Linked DNA regions of Homo sapiens. The protein of the gene in region 1 purifies or fractionates together with the protein of each later gene. This does not show direct contact. Each region holds a gene or a part of one and is shown in the gene's direction. Other genes may lie near its edges.

What was found. Proteins that work in one complex are often made in the same cells at the same time.
Region 2: the proteins of LYRM4 (region 1) and FXN purify together in Homo sapiens (affinity purification with mass spectrometry; one large-scale study listed by BioGRID and IntAct). This does not show direct contact.
Region 3: the proteins of LYRM4 (region 1) and STARD7 purify together in Homo sapiens (co-immunoprecipitation; one large-scale study listed by IntAct). This does not show direct contact.
Region 4: the proteins of LYRM4 (region 1) and EPS8 purify together in Homo sapiens (affinity purification with mass spectrometry; one large-scale study listed by BioGRID and IntAct). This does not show direct contact.

The regions. Positions count from the first base shown.
Region 1 is NC_000006.12:5,219,451-5,222,950, reverse strand, and holds part of LYRM4 (LYR motif-containing protein 4), read left to right. Parts: intron 1-3,500.
Region 2 is NC_000009.12:69,042,252-69,045,751, forward strand, and holds part of FXN (frataxin, mitochondrial isoform 1 preproprotein), read left to right. Parts: intron 1-3,500.
Region 3 is NC_000002.12:96,202,328-96,205,827, reverse strand, and holds part of STARD7 (stAR-related lipid transfer protein 7, mitochondrial isoform 1 precursor), read left to right. Parts: intron 1-3,500. UniProt on the Homo sapiens protein: May play a protective role in mucosal tissues by preventing exaggerated allergic responses.
Region 4 is NC_000012.12:15,670,889-15,674,388, reverse strand, and holds part of EPS8 (epidermal growth factor receptor kinase substrate 8), read left to right. Parts: intron 1-3,465; coding exon 3,466-3,500. UniProt on the Homo sapiens protein: Signaling adapter that controls various cellular protrusions by regulating actin cytoskeleton dynamics and architecture. Depending on its association with other signal transducers, can regulate different processes.

The DNA.
Region 1 (3,500 bases):
CATAGGTTATACACCTTTGCCCTATTCTGAAGGTTAATTTTTTTCTTACATATTTCTCACCAACGTATTTAATTTTTCCATGCTTTAGATTTGAATTTCTAGTTTGTCTTGTTTTAATTCAGTGTTATTGCTTCTGTCAGCCATGTACATATTCTCTAGCATTCTAATCTTTCTTTTTTTTTTTTTCTTGTTTTGCTTTTCTTAAAAGTGGGCAAATGTAATATAACTTCTATACTTTTTTTTAATTTACTTTAATAGTCATCTTACTGAGGAATAATTTACATACAATCAAGTGCATCCATTTTAAGGGTACAGTTCAATGATTTGACAAACCTAAGGGCATGTGAAAACACCGCCCCATTCAAGAGAAGGACCACTCCATTACCTCAAACCAGTCCCCTTGGGCCCTTTGTGTTAACTTGGAATGGCTTCTGTTTCTTATTTCATCTCTTTATCTACAGATCTTGTCACCCACCGAACCTGAGACCAGTACCCTAGTTATTCTCCACTGTATTCCCAGCTCCTGGCATAATGCTTATATAGTAGGCATTTAGTATGTATTTCTTGAATAAATTGTAATTTTGAATTTTGTAATCATTGCCTTCTAAAAGTTGTTTGAATCTTTTTGCTGCAAACCCTTTTTTCATTGTTTTGTTTTCATTATTGGTTATTGGTACTTTTCTTGAAGGTCTTTTTGATATTGCCTATGATATTTTGATAAGCTCATTTATTCATTAAACATGTATTGAATATCTTCTCTGTACCAGACACATACAGTGGTGAGCCAGAAAGATTAAAGTTCCTGCTATGTGGGGCTTACATTGTACCAGGAGCTCACATTATCAGAAAGAAACTTTCTGCTCTTCTTCACTCTGTTATATACCCAGAGTCCGTGTGACCTTCAAATGATCCTTGAGCTTCCTCTCCATAGGCATCGTGATCCATTTGATTATACACTACACACATACACACACCATAACCCCAAGGATGTTAAATAACTTCGAGAGAGAAGAGCCTGAACCAAGATTGGGGCTGAGGAGTTGGAGAAGTAGAGGTGATTCAGAAGGGATGTGGAAAGTTACGATTGGAAGATTTGTGATTGGTTGCATATAGGGAGTTCTGGGAAAGGAAAGAATTTAGGATGAGTCTCTAAGTATTTGACTTGGGCAGTTGACTGCATGAAGATTCTCCTACCTGAGGAAGGAAGTATTGGTCATCATGAGCACTTCAGGTTTTTGTTTGTTTGTTTGTTTGTTCTTGAGACATTGTCTTGCCCTGTAGCCCAGGCTGGAGTGCAGTGGCGCGATCTTGGCTCACTGCAACTTCCGCCTCCGGGTTCAAGCAGTTCTCCTGTCTCAGCCTCCCAGGTAGCTGGGATTACAGACATGTGCCACCGCACCCAGCTAATTTTTGTATTTTTAGTAGAGACAGGGTTTCACCATGTTGACCAGGCTGGTCTCAAACTCCTGACCTCGTGATCCGCCCGCCTTGGCCTCCCAGAGTGCTGAGATTACAGGCATGAGCCACCGCACCCAGCCAGGCACTTCGGTTTTGAATGTATTCACTGGAAGAGTCTATATTTTAGTTGACAAGTGCAAAAGGCAATTGGGTATATGGATTTGGACCTCAGAAGGAAGGTCTGGACTAGAGAAATATTGGTAGCCAATGGCATCTATATGGCAGGTGAAACCTTTGACAGATGCAATTACTGGCAGAGATCTTATGAATAAGAAAAATGGTTCACATATGTGCCCTAGAGAATACAGCATGTAAGGGGCAGCAGAATGAGATGAGCCCACAAAGGAGCTTGGGAAGGAGTAGCTAGGCCAGATATAGTGGCTCACACCTGTAATCCCAGCACTTTGAGAGGCCAAGGCAAGAGGATCACTGGAAGTCAGGAGTTTGAGACCAGCCTGGGCAGCATAGTGACACCCTCTCTCTACAAAATGAAAATTAGCAGGTCATGGTGGCATGCTGCTGTATTCCCAGCTACTTGGGAGGGTGAGGCGGAAGGATCGTTTGAGCCCAGGAGTTTGAGGCTACAGAGAGCTATAATAGGGCCATTGCACTTCAGCCTGGGTGACAGTGAAACCCTGTCTCTGAAAAAAGAAACCTAAAACTGGAGGTCTGTGTATTGCAATGAGTGCTCTTTAGACATTAAGACTTGAATATGAAGACTTGACCTCCAGAAATTAACAAGTAACAGTATCATGGAGGCATGCAACACAGTATTGTCAGATGGCATGACCTCAAAGATGCATAAGGGTGAATCAGTGATCTGAAAGCAGCAGCAGGCTCCCGGAATACACCAGCACCCTCCTCTGGGCCCTGTGGAATATGGGGACATGCTAGAATTTAGCAGCTTCCTCTTGCACATTTCAGTTAAGGCAAGTAGGTGGAGGATGTGTCCTTCCAAGTCATTGGAGGTAGATGAGTTTGCCCCACAGAGGCCAGTAGAAAGGATTCAGCTTTTATTGTTCCTAGGATACTTGAGTTCAGGTTACAGAGGACCAAGAAAAGGCACAGATGTGTTTATAGGATAGGTACACAGAGAAACCAGCACTTGAGATGCTGATGAAGATGACAGAAATGAAAGGCATTACATTAGGTGGTTTCCACATCACACATTGGATGCTAAAGCTGATATGAGCCTCCAAGTGCTCAGAGGCTGTGATTATGGCTGCATTTGGTGTTTCTGGGAGGGGACAGAGTAAAGCAGAACCTCAAGCACTGAAGAGCTTTCGTTACTGCCTGCTGTGCAACAGGGAAATTGGAGTTTTGAGTGGAAGAATCTCAGAAAAGAGTATAATCCTTGCAATGGTAAAAAGAACCTGTGGGCACTTGAGATCTAATGACAGAATGAAGAGCAAAGGCTGGGGTGGAGAAGGAAAGCCAAATGGGAGTCTCCTGTGCAAAGAAGCACCAAGAAACTGCCAAGCTTCAGGAGAGTGGAAAGGGCAGTGTGTGTGCGAGCATCATCACCTCACTGTTTCTGTGGCTGTGGGGCTGCTGCTTTGTATTTGGTTGTGTTGCCCTTTCTGCGTTAGTTTTTCATGCCGTATTTCAGACAGCGTCTGACTCATTAGGATCATCCTAATGCACAGCATTGTGTAGCACCTAGCTGCCATTTTCACAGCAACTTCTGCAAATTTTTCTTTGAAATATTCTTGCTCAGTGGTATGGTCAAGAGGCTGATAGCCAGAATCTGCAAAAAAGAAAAGCAAAGAAAAAAGAAAAAAAAAAAAGCAAATGATAAAAACCAGGGCAGGGCCAGGATTGAAATAACTGGTGATTAGCCCCCTCCCACCAAATTTGAAGATTCACTCAGATTTTTGATGACTTTCACAAAGCTGTGATCATTCGAAATAAGAATTCTTACAACTAAGGAAGAAACTCTTCATGCAGTAGTAGTTTTGTGGTTCTGAGCCAGTGAAATATTTTCCCTTAGGGCGAAGAATAACACTGGGTGCTTTAAGTGAGGCAGAAAGAGCAGGAAAGAG
Region 2 (3,500 bases), on another chromosome or scaffold:
AAAGGAAGAACACTCATCCTATGACCTTGACCTCCAAGCTTTGCCTCCCTCAAGCAGAACAGAATGGAGCCTCCCTTAGGCAGAGGCGGAAGTTTGCCTCTCACCTAGTTCTCCATTCTTTTGTTCAGAGCCTGAATACCCTCAGGCTCTGTACTTGGGGTATTTCTGTTCTCTTGTTTTATGCTCACGGTTGTGAGGTTTGTTGTGAGTACCACGATCCCTTCCTTCAGAGGAGTAAACTGAGGTTCCAAAAGGTTTAGCAGTTGCCCGAGGAATATTAAATTGGCAAAAGCAGGTAGAATATAAAGCAAGGAGTATTTGGCAACGGTTCTTTTTTATGATTAAAAACAGCCGAAGAAAGACTTCTACTTGTGCCTTTGAAGGAGTAACTGCATTTGACCTTCCCACCAGTAACAACCATCAAATCTCTATTAAATTAAACACACACACACACAAACAAAAACAGCTATTGTGAAGGTATCAGCGACTAAGACAACTAAGGTTTGAGGGGCCAGGATCCTGGAGAGATGGAAACTTCCCTGAGGTGAGCCCCACATTCTCAGACACTTTTCCTTGGATGTTTTGAGCACTGCTTTAATTCCTGGGAAAACAATTCCTTCCACTGTGCACAGACTCTGGGGCCAGACAGCTTGGGTTCAATCCCAGCTCTGCCACTTAATGTCTGTGTATCTGTGTAGGCAAGTTACCCTTTGGTGCGTCAGTTTCCTCATCTGTAAAACACAACTATAGTTGATCCTCATTCGTTAAGAGTCTGTACTTGTTAATTTGCTCACTTGCTAAAATTTGTTACCCCAAAATCAGTACCCCTAGCCTTTTGGGGTCGTTTCAAAGATGTGTGCAGAGCGGCAAAAAAATGTGAGCTCCTCCAGGCTCATGTTCCCAGCCAAGGTCCAACAAAGTGCTGCCCTGCCTTCTTATTTCAGCTGTCATAGTGTAAACTGTGTCCTTTTCACAGTCTGATTAGTGCCATGTTTTTCAGATTTTTATGCTTTTTTCTTGGTTATTTCTCTGTTAAAATTGTCTCCAAGTGTAGTGCAAAGTTTAGCACGAGGAGGCTGTGATGTTCCTTACAGAGAAAATGCATGTGTTAGAGAAGCTTTGTCAGGCATGAGTTAAGGTGCTGTTGTCCTGAGATCAATTAATTTGTTGTTGTTGTTGTTTGAGACAGGGTCTCCCTCTGTTGCCCAGGCTGCTGGAGTGCAATGGTGTAATCATAGCTCACTGCAGCCTCTACCTCTCTGGCTCAAGCAATCCTCCCACCTCGGCCTCCTGAGTAGCTGGGACTACAGGTACACCCCACCACACCCAGATAATGTTTTTGATATTTTTTTAGGTGGAATTTTGCTCATCACCCAGGCTGGAGTGCAATGGTGCGATCCTGGCTCACTGCAACCTCCACCTCCCGGATTCAAGCAATTCTTCTGCCTCAGCCTCCTGAGTAGCACAGATTACAGGCACATGTCATCACGCCTTGCTAATTTTTGTGTTTTTAGTAGAGGCGGGGTTTCACCATGTTGGCCAGGCTAGTCTTGAACTCCTGACCTCAGGTGATCCACCCGCCTCCGCCTCCCAAACTGCAGAGATTATAGGCACGAACCACAATGCCCGGCCTCATGTTTTTTATTTTTCAAGTTGAAATGAGGTCTCTCTATGTTGCCCAGGTTGGTCTCAAACTCTTGAGCTCAAGTAATCCTCCCACCTTGGCCTCCCAAAGTGCGGGGATTACAGGTGTGAGCTACCATGCCCAGCCAAGATCAGTGTTAATGAATCAACTATATATATTACATAAGGTGTCTTTAAACAGAAATAAGGTTATATATTGATCGATTGGTAACAATGTTGTGACCAGCAGCTTACAGGGTACCTAGCCTTGTATTTCTCCTATAAATAATTTGCTCGTTGAGTGTTTGTGGCAACTTTGTAGCACATAACTACCAAGAATAAGGACTGTAATAAGAGTACGTCCCTCACAGGATTGTAATGAAGACTGAGTCCATTTACATAAAGGCTGAGAGCAGTGTCAAGCAGATGGAGAACACTGTAGAATGTGCGATAGCTCTAACAGTGGTTATCATGGCTGCCCTCTCACTTCTTCAGAGACATGTGTTTCTAAGGTCTGCACTCTGCCCCACCCTCCCCATCCACTGTCCCCCAGCCCGTTTCCTCCTCCACTTACTTCCCAGCCCTGTGCCTTCTGCCTTCTCTTTTCTGAGTTTGCTAAGGGCACTGCTGGCTCAAGAGCAGTAACTAACAGTCTCTCGCCTCTTCTCTCCATGGCAACCAGTGACCTTTGGAGAATGTAAACCTTATCACCAATCTCTTAAAGCCCTTCGGTGCCTTCCCAGGATGACGTCCAGCTGAGGTCCTTGGCAAGACCCAGGGCGCCCCCTCCTCGCTCCATCACCTCCCCTGTCACCTCCCCTGCATCTCCCTACTCCAGCTGCACCACTCTTGTGCCCCAGTGGCTCTTGTCTGATTATTTCCTTCATCTCCCCAGCTGGTCAGCAGAGCTGGTGGTAATCAACTCAGACCCTGTCACCTGGATGTCCAGCAGTTAGGGACTAAAAAAAATCAACAGGTCACATTCTGTCCTGCAGATCATGATAATAAGATCTGTCAGACAGCAGTCAGCAGTCAGAGCCAAATCTTCTGGACTTCAGCAGGATTCTGCCTCTTGCTATTTCCTGTTGCCTCTCTTAGTGACCTTTTAAGAGCATTGTGGATGCCTCCCAGCCTCCTGCTAACCACCCTGTAACCTGAACAGCCTGCAGCAGCCCTGCCCAGTAGAACTTCCTGATGTGATGGAAATGCTGTGTCTGCACCACTAGCCACATGTGGCCACAGGATTCTCGAAACTGGTGGTGCAGTTGAGGAGCTGACTTTATATTTTATCTCATTAAATTTAAATGTAAATAGCTACGTGTGGCTTGTTGGCTAGCCTATTGGAAAACACGGGCTTAGAGAGACACAGGGAGAATCACTGTAATGCACTAAAAGAAGGTAAAAAAAAAAAAATCCTAAGAAATATTCCTAAAATACTTTAATATAGGGCTGGGTGCGGTGGCTCACATCCAGCATTTTGGGAAGCTGAGGAGGGCAGATCACTTGAGGCCAGGAGTTCAAGACCAGCCTGGCCAACATGGTGAAACCCCGTCTCTACTAAAAATACAAAAAATCGGGTGCGGTGGCGGGTGCCTGTAATCCCAGCTACGCGGGAGGCTGAGGCACGAGAATCACTCGAACCCGGGAGGCGGGGGTTGCAGTGAGCCGAGATCGTGCCACTGCACTCCAGCCTGGGCGACAGAGCGAGACTTCATCTCAAAAACAAAAAACAAAAACCAAAAAAAAAAACTTCAGCATGATTATTTAACCAAAATGCAGGTTAGTTGTTCACCGGATGCAGAGTCCAATTAACAAGAGCAAGGCCTGGTACCAAAAAAAGTGAATTTACTCCGAAACTAGCTTGGGTGAGGGGTACA
Region 3 (3,500 bases), on another chromosome or scaffold:
GTTAATGTGATAGGAAGGCAAATATGCTATTCAACAACTACATCTTGGTTGCACAGTGGTTCCTTAGGTCTTTGTTTTGATAGCTTGTCATGTTTATATTTTATTAAAATATTCTGGGTACAGATTAACTTATTTGCTTTGTGTTTAAGTATTCTATTTGCTTGAAAGTAGGCACTGCTGAGGTTGTCATAGCTAGCTTAGAACATCTTGGATTTCGTTTGTTCTAGTGAGATGATTTTTGGGTAGCTTCCATAATGGAGCACAGTTGGAGTGTGTCTCAAGTGCATTTCTTTCATTGTTAATGGAAAAAGAGCATGATTGTCACATGGCCCCTAAATCACAGCCTTTGGCTCATCTGTGCTGATTCTGTACCAACTTGTCCTGGCACAAACTAATTCTAACATAGCTGTTTTGGTTAAGCGGGTGGAATGTGCAGGGTGTCTTTTTGAATGTGTGCCTTAAAGTGGCATGTGTTTTCCTTATGTTATTTGAGTCCTATTCAGAATGACAAAGCATAACTTGTCTTCTCGTCTTTTGTGCTTAAGAACATCTTACCAAATAGCGTCTTATTAATCAAGCAACAGCAAGAAAATTTGAGAAGTGATTTTGACTGGCTGCTGTGGCCAGATGTAGAAATCAGATCTTTTAATACTTGCTCTAGTACCCAGTTGTCTTAAATTAAACAACGAAAATATCTTGGGATTGCTGTTTTTGGTGCTAGCTGGCATTCTGTGATTCCAGGGCAAATCTAATGGAAAAATACAGTAGTCATGTTTTTGATTGCTTTGGAACAGTTAAAAAGAAAAGTTACAGGAACAAAGAGAGGAAGGATGTTAAGAAATGAAAGGCTAGGGGAAAATGTTCCATTAACCTCCTCATAGTTTTTTAAAAGTTACAGTTCATTGCTCCAGAAATTTGAGTAAATAAGTGCCATTAAAGTTGCATAAAGAAAATTGGCCATTTTCTCTTTTCTGTCTTTCAGGGCATTCGGGATATGTTAAACTTCAGTGTGTTATTGACTAGATAAATGATCCGCATAAAGTCCTTTTGCCTTAAAGGAACTTTTTTTTTTTTTTTTGGCCATTGTCACTTCAGGGTATCTTACTGGTAAACCCTTAAACCCCTTGTTAGATCTTCAGAGCTACATAAAATTAGATCTCAATTTTTTGAGGTTGTCTTCATTATTTTACCATTAACTAGTTGCCCTAGAACTGCAATGAGCTAATTGATGTCCTGTCCTGTCCTGTCCTCCCCTTCCCTCCCGCCCCCTTCCGGGACAGAGTCTCACCCTGTCGCCCAGGCTGGAGTGCATTGGCATGATCTCGGCTCACTGCAACCTCCGCCTCCCAGGTTCAAGCGATTCTCCTGCCTCAGCCTCCACTGAGTAGCTGGATTACAGGTGCTTGCCACCACACCCGGCTAATTTTTTGTATCCTTAGTAGAGATGGGGTTTCACCATGTTGGACAGGCTGGTCTCCAGCTCTTGACCTCGTGATCCGCCTGTCTCGGCCTCCCAAAGAGTTGGGATTACAGGCATGAGACATCACGCCCAGACTCTTTTTTTTCTTAAGACATAATCTCACTCTGTCGCCCAGGCTGGAGTGCAGTGGTGTGATCTCACCTCACCGCAGCCTCCGCCTCCCTGGTTCCAGCTATTCTCGTGCCTCAGCCTTGCCAGTGGCTGGGTCTACAGCGGGGGTGCCACCACGCCTGTTTAATTTTTGTATTTTTAGTGGAGACGGGGATTCACCATGTTGGCCAGGCTGGTCTCGAACTCCTGCTCCTGACCTCAAACAGTCCTCACGCCTTGGCCTTCCAAAGTGCTGAGAGCCAGGCGCCTGGCTCTATGTCTTTTTTTGGGGGGTATGGAGTCTTGTTCTGTTGCCTAGGCTGGAGTGCAGCGGTGTGATCTGGGCTTACTGAAGCATCCACCTCCTGGTTTCAAGCAGTTCTCCTGCCTCAGCCTCTCAAGTAGCTGGGACTACAGGCATGCCCCACCACGCCCACCTAATTTTGTGTGTTTATTTTTAGAAGAGAAGGTTTCACTGTGTTGGCCAGGCTGATCTCCAACTCCTGATCTCAAGTGATCCGCCTGCCTTGGCCTCCCAAAGTGCTGGGATTACAGGCATAAGCCACTGCGCCTGACTCCTATGTCTTTTATTTCTAGGTGTGTCCCGTATCAGTAGAACCTGACTTTGACAATAACTTGGAATTTGAAGAGGAGGAGAATTATGTGAAGTGAGGCTGTTGTCTGACTGAAATTCCTAATTGTAGGGATGGTTTCATTTAAGTAATTTTGGAGCCTTACACCAAGCTCCATGCTGAGGGCAGGACCCCTAGATGAACCAAATGTTGTTTCACTTACTTTGTTTTCATGGTTTGTTTGCTTTCAGTTTCTATAGCTTTCGGTCCAGCCTTTTTCAGATATTGAAATGATTTTCGTTTTGGAGAAAGAAAGGCATGGTCTCTCTTTTCTTGATCCTTTTTCTAATCTGCTGATTTTACTATTTTGGGAATAATCTCTTTTGTCCTTCTGTCCTCTCTTAAGTCTCTTAAGATGTGAAGGTTTAGCCACCCATCCCATCCAAACAAGATTGGGCACAGCAGCCTAAAGAGATGTGTCATGAGAGGTTTTCCTTTTCTCCACATATATGTTAGTGAATGACTTTGTGCTCCTGTATGTTAATTGGGTCTTGTCATGTTAGCATTTAGAAGTTCAGACCCTTCAGGGATTCCTAAACCTTGGGAAAAAATAACTTGATCATTTACATTTTCGTGAAGCAGTCTTGCTCTATCATTCATACTGTGTCTCCACAAGACATTTCCGTCCCTTTTCATAATTTTAGTCAAAGCCACCTAGTAACCTTTAATTATATAGGAGAGCTTGATTAAGCAGTGGGTCAGATGCTCTGAACCACCTTGATTCTTAGAAGGTCATGAAAAAATGTTGCCTATAGTTAATAATTTTCTTAAAACTTTATTAACTATGTAATTATTTTATGAGCCTCTGATGTTTTAGTACGACATTCCACCAGTGGAAACATGCTCCCCTTTATTATGTGGCAAGAATGATAATTCGGGCCAGGTGTTGTGGCATGTGCCTGTACTTGGGAGGCTGGAGGATCACTTGAGCCCAGGAATTTGAGGCCAGCTTGGGCAATGAAGAAAAAAATTTTTTTTAAAGAATGACACTCAAGAGTTGTGCTTAGTTATTGTTGAAGGATGCTTTATAGACCTCAAAAATGCTGTAATCGATGCCCTATGGTGCCTGATTGTTCTCTGAGCAAATCTAGCTATGGTTTTGCTTTTGCTCTTCTTCTGCAACATCTAAATGCCTATCCTAAGGTTCCTTCTCTGTTTCTCTATGGTTTTGCAGCTGGTCAGGGTTCTTGGTTGTAACAAAGAAACTGGTCTTGGTTAATTTAAGCCAAAAAGGAATTAATCAAAACGGTATTAGGTCACTCAGTATTGACAAGGCCAGGGTACAGGTTGACCAAGAC
Region 4 (3,500 bases), on another chromosome or scaffold:
TTGTAAGTATAAAGTAATATGAGTTCTAGCCCATTGTTTTATTTAGAGAGAGGAATACTCAGCAGCTGCTTTTATGTTACTTTTTTCTTGTTAATGGCCAAATCCTTACTCTCTAAGGAACATTTTTGTTTTTAGAGAAAGAGAAAAAAAATTCTAAATATTAGCTGTATCTTTGAATATTAGCCGTTTCAAATGTTATATTATGCATAAACAGCAATGCATGTGAAAGGGAATTAAGTGTAAATACCAACACCTGGATGCTTTTTATACTTGTAGTTCAACTAATTAACAAATTAAATGAAACCTAAATTTAGTATTTCTGATCTGGGAGTTGAATATCAATTTTTGCAATAGTGTATGATAAAATTGTATGTAAATATTTTTCATCGTTGGTTACTGAATTCATGTAATTCTGTCTGTTTGGAGTTGTACATTCTGGACCATGACATAAAAGCTAATAGACAAAATAGTGAAACACAACCAGTGGTTCTATAGCCAAGTAAGTTTCATCCTACCTCTAATTGATTCTGAGCGAGAAAGAGAGGCAGGGGCCAGAATAGGAGGGGAAATAGACTTAGTCTTATGTTAGGAGTTGAGCAGCTTGTACTACTAGAAACCTAAAACCCTACTGCCATGTTTATTCATGAATTTATTATTTAATATACCATTTGACGATATTTACATTCTTAATTTGGAAAGGAAAATGTTCTGCTTGAAGAGATAGTATATAGTAGATGAGTTGCACACTGTTTTATAAAGTTCATTCCAACATGCAGCCAAGGATGAGAACCACTGTTAGCAAAAGTGGTGAATTTCATTAGAGGATTCATCTTGAGTAGTGTTGAGAGATTTTAGTTAGGCTTTTTATACTGTTTTAAGGCTTTGGTGAGATTTCTAGCTTAGGAGCCTAATTACTATTTATACCAGTTCTTGTGAATACATGTGATTCTCATAAAAAAGAAATGTATTATAATTGCCTTTTAGGAAATGTCTTTCAAAATTGCCTATTAAAATGTTAATATTAACCTTTATGGATTGACTTAAAAATCACTGGAACTACTAGTTTATTTATAAGTCCATTTATGGCATTTATACATTTTTAGGATCTTTAAAAGGTAGTTTCTTATACAACTTATTTATTGTACAACATAGAGAAAGCAGCTTAGGAATTCCTAAAGTGGATTCTTAATTTGGAATATTAGAAATGACACCATATCTTCTAGGCACTCAGAGTGATCGGTTAATGTCATACTGTTTAAAATGCTATCAGATAGTTTTTCTTCTCATTTCTGTAAATTATGTTTCTGTGGGATTGGGAAACTATGGGTTAGGAAATCAAGAGGTCAGGGATAAATTCTTAATACTTCATAATGAGAATATCTAAATAGAAACACACAGTATTTCAGATCTTCAACTGTTGTATTTGCCAATAAATTACCTGAAAGACAAAGCATTTGAACATCCAGGAGCTGCCATATCATGACTGGGTGTCATGGCAACCACTGCCATTTCTTTTCTGTCCTAAGGTCAGATCAAAGCAAGCCGAGCCCTCCTGCTCTGAATCTATCGTGGACAGTTGTGTTAGAATATGGTGAACCAGTGACTCTGAAATAGTGATTATTTCTAGATGTGGTTTTGTGAAATATATTCCTGAATTATATATTGTATTACAAGAGTCATAACGGCTGTCACAGGGACAATTATCGATGTGTTAATATCTCACACTGATTAATCCTCAACAACTAATCAGAAAAATCACAGTCGCTCACTTTTTAAAAATATGTAGAATACAGTCATGTAAGTGAAGGTTTATGTTTTGTTATATTGGGAGAGAAAATTTTAGGTGAAACCAGATCTTTCTTTTTGATGACATTATTTTGGTAGGACCAGATGGATCATACTTCCTCAGGTCATCATCCAAACAAAAAAAGAAAGGTAGCACAGAGTGAATTTTGTAGTGCATCTGTTTTTATTAAGTAATTTTAATGCTGCAAAAGCAAAAATGGAGTGTATTGGAATATCAGAGTAATATTGATACAAGGACATGGAGATTTTAATCTAAATTTTAAAAGTAAATATAAATGAAATTCATATGTGTTGTAAAATGAAAATTTATTAAGTTTTCTTAAAATTCTGTGTTAATGTTCTGAGTCTGCATATGTATATATGCACTTTATATTTTTGTACTTGCTCAGCTTTTATGTTCAGCAGAACTTTCCAAACAACTTATCTATTATAGAATATCTATACTAACTAAAAGAAATAGGTTTACATTTACAAAAAAATAGGTTGTTGGGAAAGCTAAGGTATATCTATATGTCAGAATGTTAATGGCTTAAAGGCCTTTAGGTTTGACCTTGTTTAATCCTTTTATTTTACAGTAAGGGTGCTGAGGCCCAGGGTATTAAGTTTCTTGCCCAAATTTAGTTTCCTACTTAGTGACAGAGCCGAAGCTGGAACAATAAATCTTATAATTCCCTCTCAGAGTTATTTTTCATCATAGCATTCTGTTTAGAAGAAATAGGGCAACTCTGAATTTACAAATAAGCAAGTTGCTTGATTAGAAAAGTAACAAATAGTGCTCACTTTGGCAGCACATATACTAAAATTGGAATGATACAGAGATTAGCATGACCCCTGTGCAGAGATGGCACTCAAATTCATGAAGTGTTCCATATTTTAAAAAACAATACAAATTTTAAAAAGAGAGTAACAAATACCAAATATTGCCGACATACATTTTATATTTTAATGTTATTTTTTTGGTTTTGCAGCATTTCAGAAAAGAAAATTAAAGGTTTCTTTTTGCTTTTTAAGTAGTTTGGTGCAATAACTTTCTACCTGACTTTCTTGTTTTTCCTATCAGCTTATATTTATAATTCTAAGTATCACATTTGTGTGTTTTGTAGATGTGTGAAAACTGTTAATATTTAATGGCAAGCCATGTGATTGAATCATGTTTTAAATCTCCTCTAACACTATCCCAATTTGGATATTGCAAAAGGAGATGTTCCTTGTAATGCCTATTATTTTAATAATGTAGTCTAACTCATATAATACAGTATCTATGACAATATTTGCAATTACATTTTGATATCAGTGCAGTAACAGATGAAATTTATAAGCCAGTTGTAATTGACTTGTCAAACAGTAGGTCCCTGACTGATAAATAAAACCTTTAGATGAAATAACTTTTTTTCTTATAATATTTATACTCTTGTTAACCTTTGGAATTCTAAAAATGGATAGTGGATCAAATTGTTCTTGCCTATTATTTAGACTTTCTTGTGGTTTTTAGATTTACTGCGAATAATGAGTGTTTTCAGATACACCACACAATGGCAACTTGTCAGCTACTGTATTTATATGTGAGATAGACTAGTTTTAGAGATAGCCACATGATACCAACATATGAACTTCAGTCTATTAGGGGACAAATCATGGCTTTTTCAATTTCTCTTTCAGAACAAAGGAAGAATTATGCACGGGACAGTGTCAGC